Homo sapiens: one gene and its partners. The protein of the gene in region 1 purifies or fractionates together with the protein of each later gene. This does not show direct contact. Each region holds a gene or a part of one and is shown in the gene's direction. Other genes may lie near its edges.

Region 1 (3,650 bases):
ATCTCTCTTCCCGTTAACTGGGTAAGGAAGCGCCGGTCCTCCGTGCGATGGGTCCCATGGAGCCAAATCTGTGCAGACGGAAGAGAGGCTGAGCTGAACAAGAGTGTCCTGGTTCTGTGGTTTTGTTAATGAACAGCTTCTCTGACAACCCCATCCAATTTTCCCTGACCACAGGAACATATGGAAAATGCAGAGAGAACCCTGACACCGTTCAGTAAATATTTCTGGTCAGCTTACTCTTTTTTAAATGTGAGCTTAAATCACATAGAACTTCAACCTAAATTTATCTTCTTTTAAGACCATGTGCCTCTGAAGAGAGAGCAGATGCAGGGGAATGGGACATTGCTGTCATCACTGTGTACTCACATCCTTATTCCTGCGCATTCAGAGAAGACCAGAATATTCCCTCTGGGGGCACACACTGCATCTTGTTCATGATTGTATCCCTAGCACTGAGCATAATTTCTGGTGCAGAGTGGGTGCTTATTAAATGTTGAGAGAAATAAGTGAGAACAAACATAAATATTTTCCTCTATGATCTCTTCTCCTTGTCCTACCCTGCATCGTCTTTGGAAACACAACCATAAGGCAGCCAGTCTCTGAGCCTTTCAGGAACATTAGTGAATTTCCATATAAGGTACAGATACATATTGCTAAAAGTTTCCATGTAGCCCAGATGTTCCTTTTAAGGAACATTAAACAACAAATAAGTCCTTTTAAATTGCCTGCCTCCTCCCCGACCTGATTTCTCATTTCCTCCAAGGTCGTCCACGTGTGGACACTCGGCCCCAATGGCCTCTGGCCTCAGCGACCTGGGGCTGCAATACCATCTGGTTTCCTTCCCATACTGGTGCTTGGAGGAGGGAAGGCATCCCAAATGTTCGTGTCACCTTCAAATATGTGTGTTCCCATTTCTTTTCTTCTTTCTCTGTATCTTCTTCACTTTCCTGTGGATCCCACACATAAGAAATCGCAATTATAGATTCTTATTTTTGCCTCTAAGCTGAGCATAGCAATAGAATACATTTTACAGTACATCCCATACCACTAAACATTACTTGGTCAATGCATGCTAAAGCTATAATGACAAATTAGAGCAGGCAACCTGTGGTCCTAAACTCCATAGGACTCTCCAGGGGCTCAGGTTTGGCATTCAAAACCATATTTTATTTTTCTTTTACCTTCCACTGAAGGGAAGAGGCCTTCTGAACAACTCTGGAAAAATTGGAAAGCCCCAAGAGTTTTAGATTAAAGACACACAAATCAAATGCACTGCCCACACCTAGGCGGGCTTGAAATGCTGCCCAGGTGGGAAAGGTTTTTTTTTTGTCATTTTTCATTGGCCGCTGCTTCATTCTGGATGGAGAATGGAAGAGCCCCCACTGCTCTAAGATGAAATTGGCCCGAAAGCACTGATTTCATGTTAACTACACATCCAAAGATACCTTACGTGTTGTGCCATTTACTAAATGTGTTATACATCTATTCATTTGTTTAATAAGTGCTTATTGAGTGGCAGTGATATGCTAGACATTGTTCTAGGCACTCAAAGATAGAAGACCTAGCAAAATAAACACAGGAGATGGAGAGAGACTCAGACAGGAAACAACTAAACACATAAAGACACGACATTGCACACCACCAGGCCGTAGGGTAGGAGGGGAAAGGGTGTGCTGATGGGCAATAGGCAGGGAGGGCCTCGATGGGAAGGTGACAGTTAAGTACAGCCTCAAAGGAAGTGAGGGAACAAACCATGAACAAACTCATTCTTTCCATGAGGGAAGAATGTTCTAGAAAGAGGGACTGGCCAGTGTGAAGGGCCTGAGGCAGGCGGGCCTGAAGGACAGCAAGCAGGGCTGTGTGCGTGGAGTGGAGTGAGAGAGATGTGGTCAGAGGGGTGATGGAGGCTGGGACGTGTGGGGTGTGACAGCCGCTTTAAAGACTTTGAGTGAAAGGGGACCTCTTGGAGGAAGGGAAGTAACTTTTGTTTTAAAAGCCCCCACAGCTGCAAAGGGGAGAAGTTACTGTAAGGAGGGCAAGAGGAGAGCAGGGAGGTCAGTTAGGAGGTGGTGGTAACAGCTCAGGTGAGTGCAGATGGGGACCTAGAGACCACAGGGGGCCGTCAGGGTGAGGACAGGCTCTATGAGAGTGAGGCCAACAGGCTCTGCTGATGGGTCGATGTGGGGGTAAAAGAAAGAAAGGAGGCCAGCAGTGGCTCATGCCTGTAATCCCAGCACTTTGAGAGACCGAGGTAGGTTGATCGCTTGAGCCCAGGAGTTTGAGACCAGCCTGCACAAACACAGCAAGACCCCATATCTATTTTCTAAATAAAATTATTTATTTTTTAAAAAAAGAGAGAAGTCAGGGGTGACTTTACATTTTTGGCTTGAGCAGTTGGAAGAAAAGAGTTGCCACTGACGGAGCTGCCTCGTGGAATATTCATGACAGCCTGTGAGAGAGGGCAGGGCTCAGGCATGCTTCAGATGAGAACACGGGGCCAGAAAAGGTGCCTGAGCTGCCCAAAGTCCCAAGGCTAGTGAGGGGCAGGACCAGGCCTCTGGCTCCGGCTGTATTCGTTTTCCATTGCTACTGTAACAAAAGCCCCCAGACCCAGTGGCTTTGGACAAGATGAATTAATTATCATGCAGTTCTGGAGAAGTCCCACATCAGTCTCGATAGACTAAAACCTAGGTGTGGACAGGGCTATGTTCCTTTCAGGGGCTCTGGAGGTGCGGCTGACCAGCCCTGAGATCTGAGCACAATCTTCCTGTGGTCCAGTTTTATCCTCTGGAAAATGAGAATAATGACCCCCATTCCCCGAGGGTTTTGGGGGAATTTGCACAAGACAACAGCTTTGAGAAATTGTTGACACTACTCACGTTAGTGGGCAGGGTGAATGGGCCCACTGGTCAGCACCAGGAGCCAACTTTGGTGTGCCCAGGAGGCCTCTGCTGAGGGAGCTGTTTGGCCGGGCGAGGTGGCTCATGCCTGTAATCCCAGCACTTTGGGAGGCCGAGGCAGGCGGATCACCTGAGGTCGGGAGTTCAAGACCAACCTGGCCAACACGGTGAAACCCCATCTCTACTAAAAATACAAAAATTAGCCGGGTGTGGTGGCGGGCACCTGTTATTCCAGCTACTCAGGAGGCTGAGGCAGGAGAATCGCTTGAACCCAGGAGGTAGAGGTTGCAGTGAGCTGAGATAGCGCCACTGCACTCCAGCCTGGGCAATAGACCGAGGCTCCGTCATAAAAAACAAAAACAAACAAAACAAACAAACAAACAAATCAAAACAAACAAACAAAAAAACTAAGGGAGCTGTGTGTTTTGGTTGCAGCCCGATGGAGAATCCAAGGTGCCCAAGGAGGCCCCTGGCGGAGAAGAAAGCCAGGTCTCTGGACAGGCCGCAGGCCCCCGGGAAAGGCTCGGAGTCGTGGGACTGCCATTGGCTCTCCCTGCCCACTGCCCCCTCCAGGAAGGCGCTTCACTGGACGACCAGTGATTGGGCCAGACATTCAGACAGCCCAGCTCCATCTGCAGAGGCTCACTGCACCACCGCTGCAGCCCCCACTCCCGAGGAGACCGGAGATTTTCTCCCCAGCGAGCAGAGGCCTTCGCAAGACACCAAGAAGGGGTGGCTGAAGACCATGCT
Region 2 (3,650 bases), on another chromosome or scaffold:
TCTGCTGTAAAGTTATTATTTTTTCCCTTTATAATTAATGAATATCTTGTGAAAAGACTCTTTGAAAATGGCTAAATACCCTGTTTTGCATCATACTTTACCCCACTCGTTTTTGCACCCACTGATGATTTTTGCCTGAATTAATTATTATGTTAATGATTGCCAAATGATGACTTTTCTAATTTCATAAAGAGCTTTCCTTATGAAGAGTATTTTTACTTATTTGTGTTTTATATTTTTTTCTTCTAGGAAAGCTCTTAACTTCACTTGCCTTCCTCCTCATCCCTTTTAATATTTTGTTTTAATTCAGTCATTTACTTTCCTGTCAAATATTTCTTCTTCCTACTGACTGTTTTCGAGATTGCTGACTTATACCCTGAATCTGTCAGAGAATGTTACAGTGTTTGGGACCAAGGGTGGTGGTGAGCCATTTCTTAAGTGATGATCACAGATTACCTGGCCTCTGTTACATTTAGATTTCAAAAAAACAGATAACACATGGATACCAGTGAATCTTGAGATTGATGGCCTGAGGAGTATATTTGGAAACTCAAATTATCCCTCCCAGCCACATGACACCCATTCACCCTGGCAGTGAGTCCAGCACATAGAGAAATACCATTCTTCTCACCTTGTCCTATGAATTTGTAGATTTTTTTTAATCTCTCCAAGAGAAGCTTTGTTTTCTCTTACTACAACCAACCAATTCAATACAGTGGTTAACAGTTGGCTTTTTAAGTCAGACTGACTTGGGTTCCATTCACAGCTCTGCCATTTATTGGATGCATGACCATTTTACAAACAAGAAAGCTAAGGCTTAGACCTTGTTAATTATGTGGTATTAAACAAAGCACGTAAGATAACTGTATATAAAATGATGCTAATATAGTGCCCAACTAATATATGTTAGCGATCATCACTGTTATTATTCTGATCCATAAAAATTTACATTTTTAATATTCTTGCATTATGTGAAATTGTTTAACTAGAAACAGTACTTTTACCTTATCAGAGCAAATCGTTTATGTGTATGGCAAAAAGGCAGAAAAAGAGGATGGGTATTCCCTCTAAATATAGACTTATTCTTCCGTTTTCTGATTTGAGATGTGATTTGATAACATGACAACTGAAATTATTCAAAATGTAACATTTACTTTCAAGCTACAAAGAGCCATCCAGGAGCATCCTGTTGTTCTGCTGCCTAGTCATCGAAGTTACATTGACTTCCTCATGTTGTCTTTTCTTCTATACAATTATGATTTGCCTGTGCCAGTTATAGCAGCAGGAATGGGTATGTATTGTTTTTCTGTTTTTTTAACTGTAAAAATTAAAAAGTTCACTGGCATATTCTAGCAGTACTGAGGTATTTGAAGATGATGATGAAAATAGCCTCTCCTCCTTTCTTCCAGTCCTAGCACTGAATAACTTGAGTTATGTCCTTTGTCCTGTGCTTTACTGTGCCTGAACAGACATCTGCAGGAGTTCATGCACACAGGGTTCTTTGGTGTAGGCTTAAAAAATGAGACTGCACTACTTACAGGTATTAGCTGCCTTTTGCTTTTTTTATTTGATAATATATTAATGGCTACCTCTCTAGGCAATAAATAGATCTAACTTTTTAAAGTTTATTTTTAATTGTGATAAAATACATATAACATCAAATTTGCCATCTAAGTCATCTTCAAAAATATAGTTCAGTGGCATTAAGTACATTTACATTGTTGTGCTGCTATCAACACCATCCATCTCCAGAACTCTTCATCTTGCAAAACTGAAATGGTACCCATTCAACACACTCCCCGTTCTACCCTCCCCCTGACCCTGGGCAATCAGCATTCTACTTTCTGTCTCTGTGAACTACTCTAGATGCTTGATATAGGTGGAATCATACAGTACTTGTCCTTTTGTGACTGGCATATTTCACTTAACAGAATGCCCTCAAGGTTCATCCATGTTGCAGCATGTGTCAGAATTTCCTTCCTTTTTGAAGTTGGAAATGCATCTGCTCAAGACCCTGCTTTCCATTTTTTTATATATATACAAAAATGGTATATATGGAATTGCTGGGTCTTGTGGTAATTTTTTTTCATTTTTTGAGGAACCACCATACTGCCTTCCTTAGCAGCTGCACCATTTTACATTCCCACCAAAAGTGCACAAGAGTTCCAGTTGTTCTACATCCTTGCCAACACCTGTTATTTTCTGATATGTTTTATAATAATTTTAATGAGTGTGAAGTGGTATCTCCTTGTAGTTTTGATTTGCATTTCCCTAATGATTAGTGATGCTGAGCATCTTTTTTGTGTGCTTATTGGCCATTTGTATATCTTTGGAGAAATGTCTGTTCAAGTCCGTTATTTTTTAATTAGGTTGTTTGGGGCTTTTTTTGTTGAGTTGTAGGAATTGTTTCTACATCCTGGATATTCACCCCTTATCAGACAGATGATTTGCAAATATTATCTTCCATTTCATGGGTTACCTTTTCACTCTGTTGATTGTGTTATTTGATGCATGGAAGTTTTTAATTGATGTAGTCCAATTGATCTATTTGTTTCTTTGGTTCCCTGGTTCCCTGTGCTTTTGGTATCAGATCGAAGAAATCATTGCCAAATCCGAGGTCATGAAGCTTTTCCCTTATGTTTTATCCTAAGAGTTTTATGGTTTCAGGTCTTACATTAAGATCTTTGGTTTTTTGAGTTAATTTTTGTATATGGTGTAAGTTAAGGGTCCAACTTCATGTCTAACATTAATTTTAATAGCCATATAATATTCAGCAGTGTGGATATTTCATAATTTAGTAGTTTTGCTGTTATAAACAATGTCATAATACATTTTTATATTGGTGCTTTTATTCCTGTAAGATCGATTCCTAAAAGTGGGATTGCTAAGGCATATAAGTTGTTTATCCACTCCCTTTTAGGGTAGCCAGGAAAGCCAGGATTCAAGTATACACGTTTGTTAATAAATGCAGTGAATGGTAAGGTTAAAACTGCCAAGAACTTAAGCACTTTAAAAGCATTTTCATCTGAACAAACTTGTGAGGAAGTTATTTGAAAACTAGGGGAAATGAAGAGAAAGACTATTTTAAAACTGCTGGTAGCAATCTTCCTTTCTTACAAGATTTGCCTTATTTAATCTCTTCCAACAAAAGTAGGTTGATGTTTTTTCCTGGTAGGCAAAAGATGAGAGCGGGTTTGGCCTGGCTGTCCAGAGCATGAAGGGCACATATTGGTCTGTTGTCAGGCTCAGCAGCATGGCTGACTAAAGACATTGACATCATGACATTGTCATGTTGCTCTGCTGTTGCCCCTGGCTCTAGCTGGCCTACTTGTAAAGGGAGTGGTGCATGGAGAAGCACAAGGTAACCTCCCAGTGAGCACCTGGCCCACAGAATCCCTTCTTTTCTATAATTCTATTAGGTATCTCTTATGTATTTTAATGTCAAAGTATAATAATATCATAGGGGTGTCTTACATTTATGAAATCTTTCTTAATAATGTTTGAGTTTAGGCCAGGCACAGTGGCTTATGCCTGTAATCCCAGTACTTTGGGAGGCCGAGGCAGGAGGACTGCTTGAGGCCAGGAAGTTTGTGACCAACCTAGCCAACATAGCGAGACCCTGTCTCATAAAATAAAATAATAAAATATAA
Region 3 (4,391 bases), on another chromosome or scaffold:
ACACATGTGCACACACAACAGGTGTGTGGCAAAATTGTGTGCATACATATGAAGCTGTGTATATGAAGAAAATAACTGGCCAGATACCTTCCAGGACACTGATCTGGTACTTCTGCTGCTCTCGCTCTTCTAGCAGGCCCTGCACTGCCTGCCTTAGTGCCTGTCACCTCCCCAGGCAGAAAAAAGCACATGAACTACTGTATAACAGCTTTTCCCGACCCCTAGTATCCTCATCTTACACAAACATCACATATACACACCAAGGATTCCAAGCCTCACCTGAGCCTGACATTGAAATTAGGATCAGAGAATAGCAACCTCACCCCAGAGAGAGGATGGGCTCTAGGACTCAGGGCAGCTCAGCCTTTGTGGAACTATGGGAGTCTCTAAAGCCCAAGGCTGTTGAGCTTGGACTCCTGACTGCAGAGGCAAGTGATGAGAGGAAATCCAGGTCCCAGCCAGGTCCCCGGCTGAGGAAATAAGGAAGGGTTAAGTGCAGGGTCTGTGTGGGGAAACAGAGTTCAGGAAAGGACAGAGTTGGAATTTGGAAGGAATAATGGATGATACGGGCACTGGAGGAAGGCACAGAAAGAGAAAGGGCTTGGAAGTAGAAAGAGACATTACTTACCTGCGGTGGAGACCCCAAGAAGATACAGCCACTGCTACAGAAGAAACAGATGCACAGGCCAATGAGCTCTGTGGAGACCCCAAGAGGATACAGCCACTGCTACAAAAGAAACAGATGCACAGGCCAATGAACTCTGAGAGTCCCTTAGCCTCCCCACGCAAACTGGGGACCTCCACCAACCCCTCACCTTATTCCGGACCACATTTCCATCAGTAGCGTTGAGAAGCACATCCAGCTGCTCAAACCAGCTGAGGCTCGTATTCATATCCTGTGGCAGGGGAGCGGCAGGGGTCTGGCTCCCTGGTGTCTTGTGCTTGCTCTCCTAGCGGGGGATACCCAAGGTATCCCCAGGAAAGGCCACCACGTTAGATGGAAAGAGGGAAGTGGGGATGCAACACTGGGGTAGGTGGATGCACTATCAGACCAAAACTGCGATCCTGTGACTAGGGAAAGGAAGGACGCTCTTGGGGAACTGGGGGAAAAGCGGGATACCGTGATGATACGCAGATATCAGGTGGGGATTGAAGGTGCCAGAACCTGGTTGAGACCTCCCCAGAAGTAGTACACTGGCGCCACCACGCCAAACCTGTGCCAGTGACAACTGCCGCCGCCGGGTTCAAAACTTCGGGTTGGTTTTGAAAGTCCGACTTTGGACTGGCTGCCGCAGCGCCACCTGGGAAACTGAGGTCGCCTCTTGCGAACACAACCGGCGATGGAGGCGGTGGAACTACCTTTCTCTAGAAGAGACACGTACATGCACACCCCCACCGTGTAGCTTGCCGGGAAACTGAGTCTTCCTGATTTCGTGTGGCTGTCTCCAAGGAGGAAACGAACTACGCATCCCAAGATGCATCGCGCATAGGCAATATGGTCCCGCTACTGGACCCATTTCCTACCTGGGAAATGGAGTCGAAGCTGACTCAAAACGTAACGGCCCAATTGTCCTTGAGACTTCATTCCCCAGCAAGCTCAGCGTGTAACGTGCGCTATGGAGCCGAAAGTCGCAGAGCTGAAGCAGAAGATCGAGGACACGCTATGTCCTTTTGGCTTCGAGGTTTACCCCTTCCAGGTTAGTTTATCCCTCCTGCTGTTCTAGGGCGAAATATATGATTGGCTTCGTTGCAACTGGCGTGAGGCCTCGGGAGCCTCTGATCCTCCTGGGTTCCTGCAGCCCAGTGTCCATGTGACAACAGGGACAGAGTTTCAGTGGGGGCTTGGGTTAAAAAGGTAGTGGTCGAGGCCGGGCATGGTGGCTCACGCCTGTAATCCCAGCACTTTGGGAGGCCGAGGCGGGCGGATCACCTGAGGTGAGGAGTTCGAGACCAGCCTGGCCAACATGGTGAAACCCCATCTCTACTAAAAATATAAAATTAGCCGGGCGTGGTGGTGCATGCCTGTAATCCCAGCTACTCGGGAGGCTGAGGCAGGACAATTGCTTGAACCCATGAGACGGAGGTTGCAGTGAGCCGAGATTGCGCCATTGCAGTCCAGCCTGAGCAACAAAGAGCGAAACTCCGTGTCAAAAAAAAAAAAAAAAAAAAAAGTTGTCGCATGTTTAACCTTTTGCCACCATATAATGCCGGATTCGTTAACGGGAGACACCATATGACCTGTAGCGTGTGTGGCTCAGATTGTCACCTATATAATTTACAAGAAGAAAGGGACCTGTGAGGCAAAGTCACCTTGGAACTTCCTAAAGGATTTAGGAGAGGGCAAAGCCTAGAAGGTTTGCATAGCTATCATTTAGGTCAGCTGAGGAAGGAAGGGCATTCCTGGTGATGAACAGGCAAACAATTGGCTGGTTTGTTCCCTCTACCAACAGAAGGATAATTCATGATATTTCCAGTCATCAGTGCTGGGCTGGGTAATGAAACTTTGTACACTTGCCTGGCACAGCAGTCTCAGCACCGCACCCCGACCCCCATTTACACGGTTACATTTCCCCACATCAGTGCCCTGTGCACTGAGCAGTTAAGTTACAAAGCTAAATCAGCTCAGCTTGAGCCCTTTGCCTGATGCTTAAGAGACTACCCACTTCCCATTCCTTCTGCTGAGTGGCTCACAGCAGTCCTGGGAGAGGATATAGAGGGAGAAGTAGGTTGGGTCTAGCTTGAGACTGGTCTTGCCAGAAAAAATGGAATTGAGCTATATATGAAAAGATAGATTGGAAGGAAGGAGGGTTATGTACATCCCAAATATCAGAAAAAGCTTGAGTAAAGGTGTGGAGATAGTGGTGTGGTGTTACCAAGTAAAAGGGCTTGATGCCTGATGTGCTGGAAGCTAATATTATGACACTGGGTTTTTGAGAAAACAAAAGCTATTTGTTGCAGATCGACCTTTAACTCTTTGAGACACCGTTTCAGTGGATGGCAGGTGTGTGGGAGAGTGAGAATGCCTATCTGGCAAGTTGAGTAGACCTGGGTATTAGGAGCTTTTGTACTGAACAAAGCCAACTGCAGCCCTGCCAGTCACCCTAGGCTCCTACCTCTCACCTCCCTACCCCCACATCCAATCAGCCACCAAGACCTATAAGACTGTCTACTGAATCTCCCAAATCCATTCCCTTGTATTCCACCCATCTATGCTGTGGTCCAGGCCACCATTTCTCACTTGGATTACTGTAATAACCTCCTTGCTGTAATTTTACCTCCAGTCCCTCCTCCACACTGCAGCCAGTGTGATCTAAAAATGATCATGCTAGTTTACTCCTTAAATCTTCAGTGGCTCTTCACTGTCACCAAATTAAATCCATATTCCTTAAATTGGTATTCAAAGCCAATCAAAATCTCACTCCTATTGATCTCTCCAGCCTTCTCTCCCTCTGATTCCCTCTACAGACCCTTCACTTCCACCAAACTAGACAATTCTCAAATATACCCAGGAATTTTCTGCCAGTGTGTTTGCTTATGCTGTGACTTGTTTATTTTATTCTTTATTTATTTAGAGACAAAGTCTCACTCTGTCCTCCCGGCCGGAGTGCAGTGGTGCAATCATAGCTCACTGCAGCCTCAAACTCCTGGGCTCAAGTGATCCTCCCACTTTAGTCTCCCAAGTAGCTGACTCCAGGCATGCACCAACACTCAGGGTCTCACTTTGTTGCCCTGGCTGGTCTTGAACTCCTGGCCTCAAGTGATCCTCCTGCTTCGGCCAGCCACCCAAAGCACTGGGATTACAGGCATGAGTCACCGCACTCAGTCTGTGACCTCTTTTTAAAATACACACCAGTGAGTTTATGTGTTTTTTGGTGAAATATAAATAATAAATAAATGCACACCAGATTCTCCTCCCTACATCAACCTGACAGTTGACCAGTTGACTTTCTAGCCTTCAAGACTTAGCATCCAAGGAAGCCTTTTCTTTTCTTTTTTTTTTTTTTTGAGATGGAGTTTCGCTCTTGTTGCCCAGGCTGGAGTGCAATGGTGCGATCTCAGCTCACCACAACCTCTGCCTCCCGGGTTCAAGTGATTCTCCTGCCTCAGCCTCCAGAGTAGGTAGGATTACAGGCATGTGCCAACATACCCGGCTAATTTTGTATTTTTTTTAGTAGAGACAGTTTCTCCATGTTGGTCAGGCTGGTCTTGAACTCCCGACCTCAGGTGATCTGCCTGCGTTGGCCTCCCAAAGTGCTGGAATTACAGGCATGAGCCACCATGCCCGGCCACAAGGAAGCCTTTTCTAATTTCAGAGGACCCTTATCTGACCCTGTCATTGCACTAGCTATAGTACAGTCATTTCTATTGTTCTTAGTGGTTCTGCCTATTAG

Evidence for each region.
Region 2: the proteins of BNIP5 (region 1) and GNPAT purify together in Homo sapiens (affinity purification with mass spectrometry; one large-scale study listed by BioGRID and IntAct). This does not show direct contact.
Region 3: the proteins of BNIP5 (region 1) and MMACHC purify together in Homo sapiens (affinity purification with mass spectrometry; one large-scale study listed by BioGRID and IntAct). This does not show direct contact.

Annotation. Positions count from the first base shown.
Region 1 is NC_000006.12:36,330,380-36,334,029, reverse strand, and holds part of BNIP5 (protein BNIP5), read left to right. Parts: intron 1-3,335; 5' UTR 3,336-3,339; coding exon 3,340-3,650.
Region 2 is NC_000001.11:231,261,562-231,265,211, forward strand, and holds part of GNPAT (dihydroxyacetone phosphate acyltransferase), read left to right. Parts: intron 1-1,161; coding exon 1,162-1,291; intron 1,292-3,650. UniProt on the Homo sapiens protein: Dihydroxyacetonephosphate acyltransferase catalyzing the first step in the biosynthesis of plasmalogens, a subset of phospholipids that differ from other glycerolipids by having an alkyl chain attached through a vinyl ether linkage at the sn-1 position of the glycerol backbone, and which unique physical properties have an impact on various aspects of cell signaling and membrane biology.
Region 3 is NC_000001.11:45,498,717-45,503,107, forward strand, and holds the start of MMACHC (cyanocobalamin reductase / alkylcobalamin dealkylase), read left to right. Parts: upstream 1-1,583; 5' UTR 1,584-1,616; coding exon 1,617-1,697; intron 1,698-4,391. Other genes in the region: transmembrane protein CCDC163, read right to left, coding at 629-727, 816-893. UniProt on the Homo sapiens protein: Cobalamin (vitamin B12) cytosolic chaperone that catalyzes the reductive decyanation of cyanocob(III)alamin (cyanocobalamin, CNCbl) to yield cob(II)alamin and cyanide, using FAD or FMN as cofactors and NADPH as cosubstrate.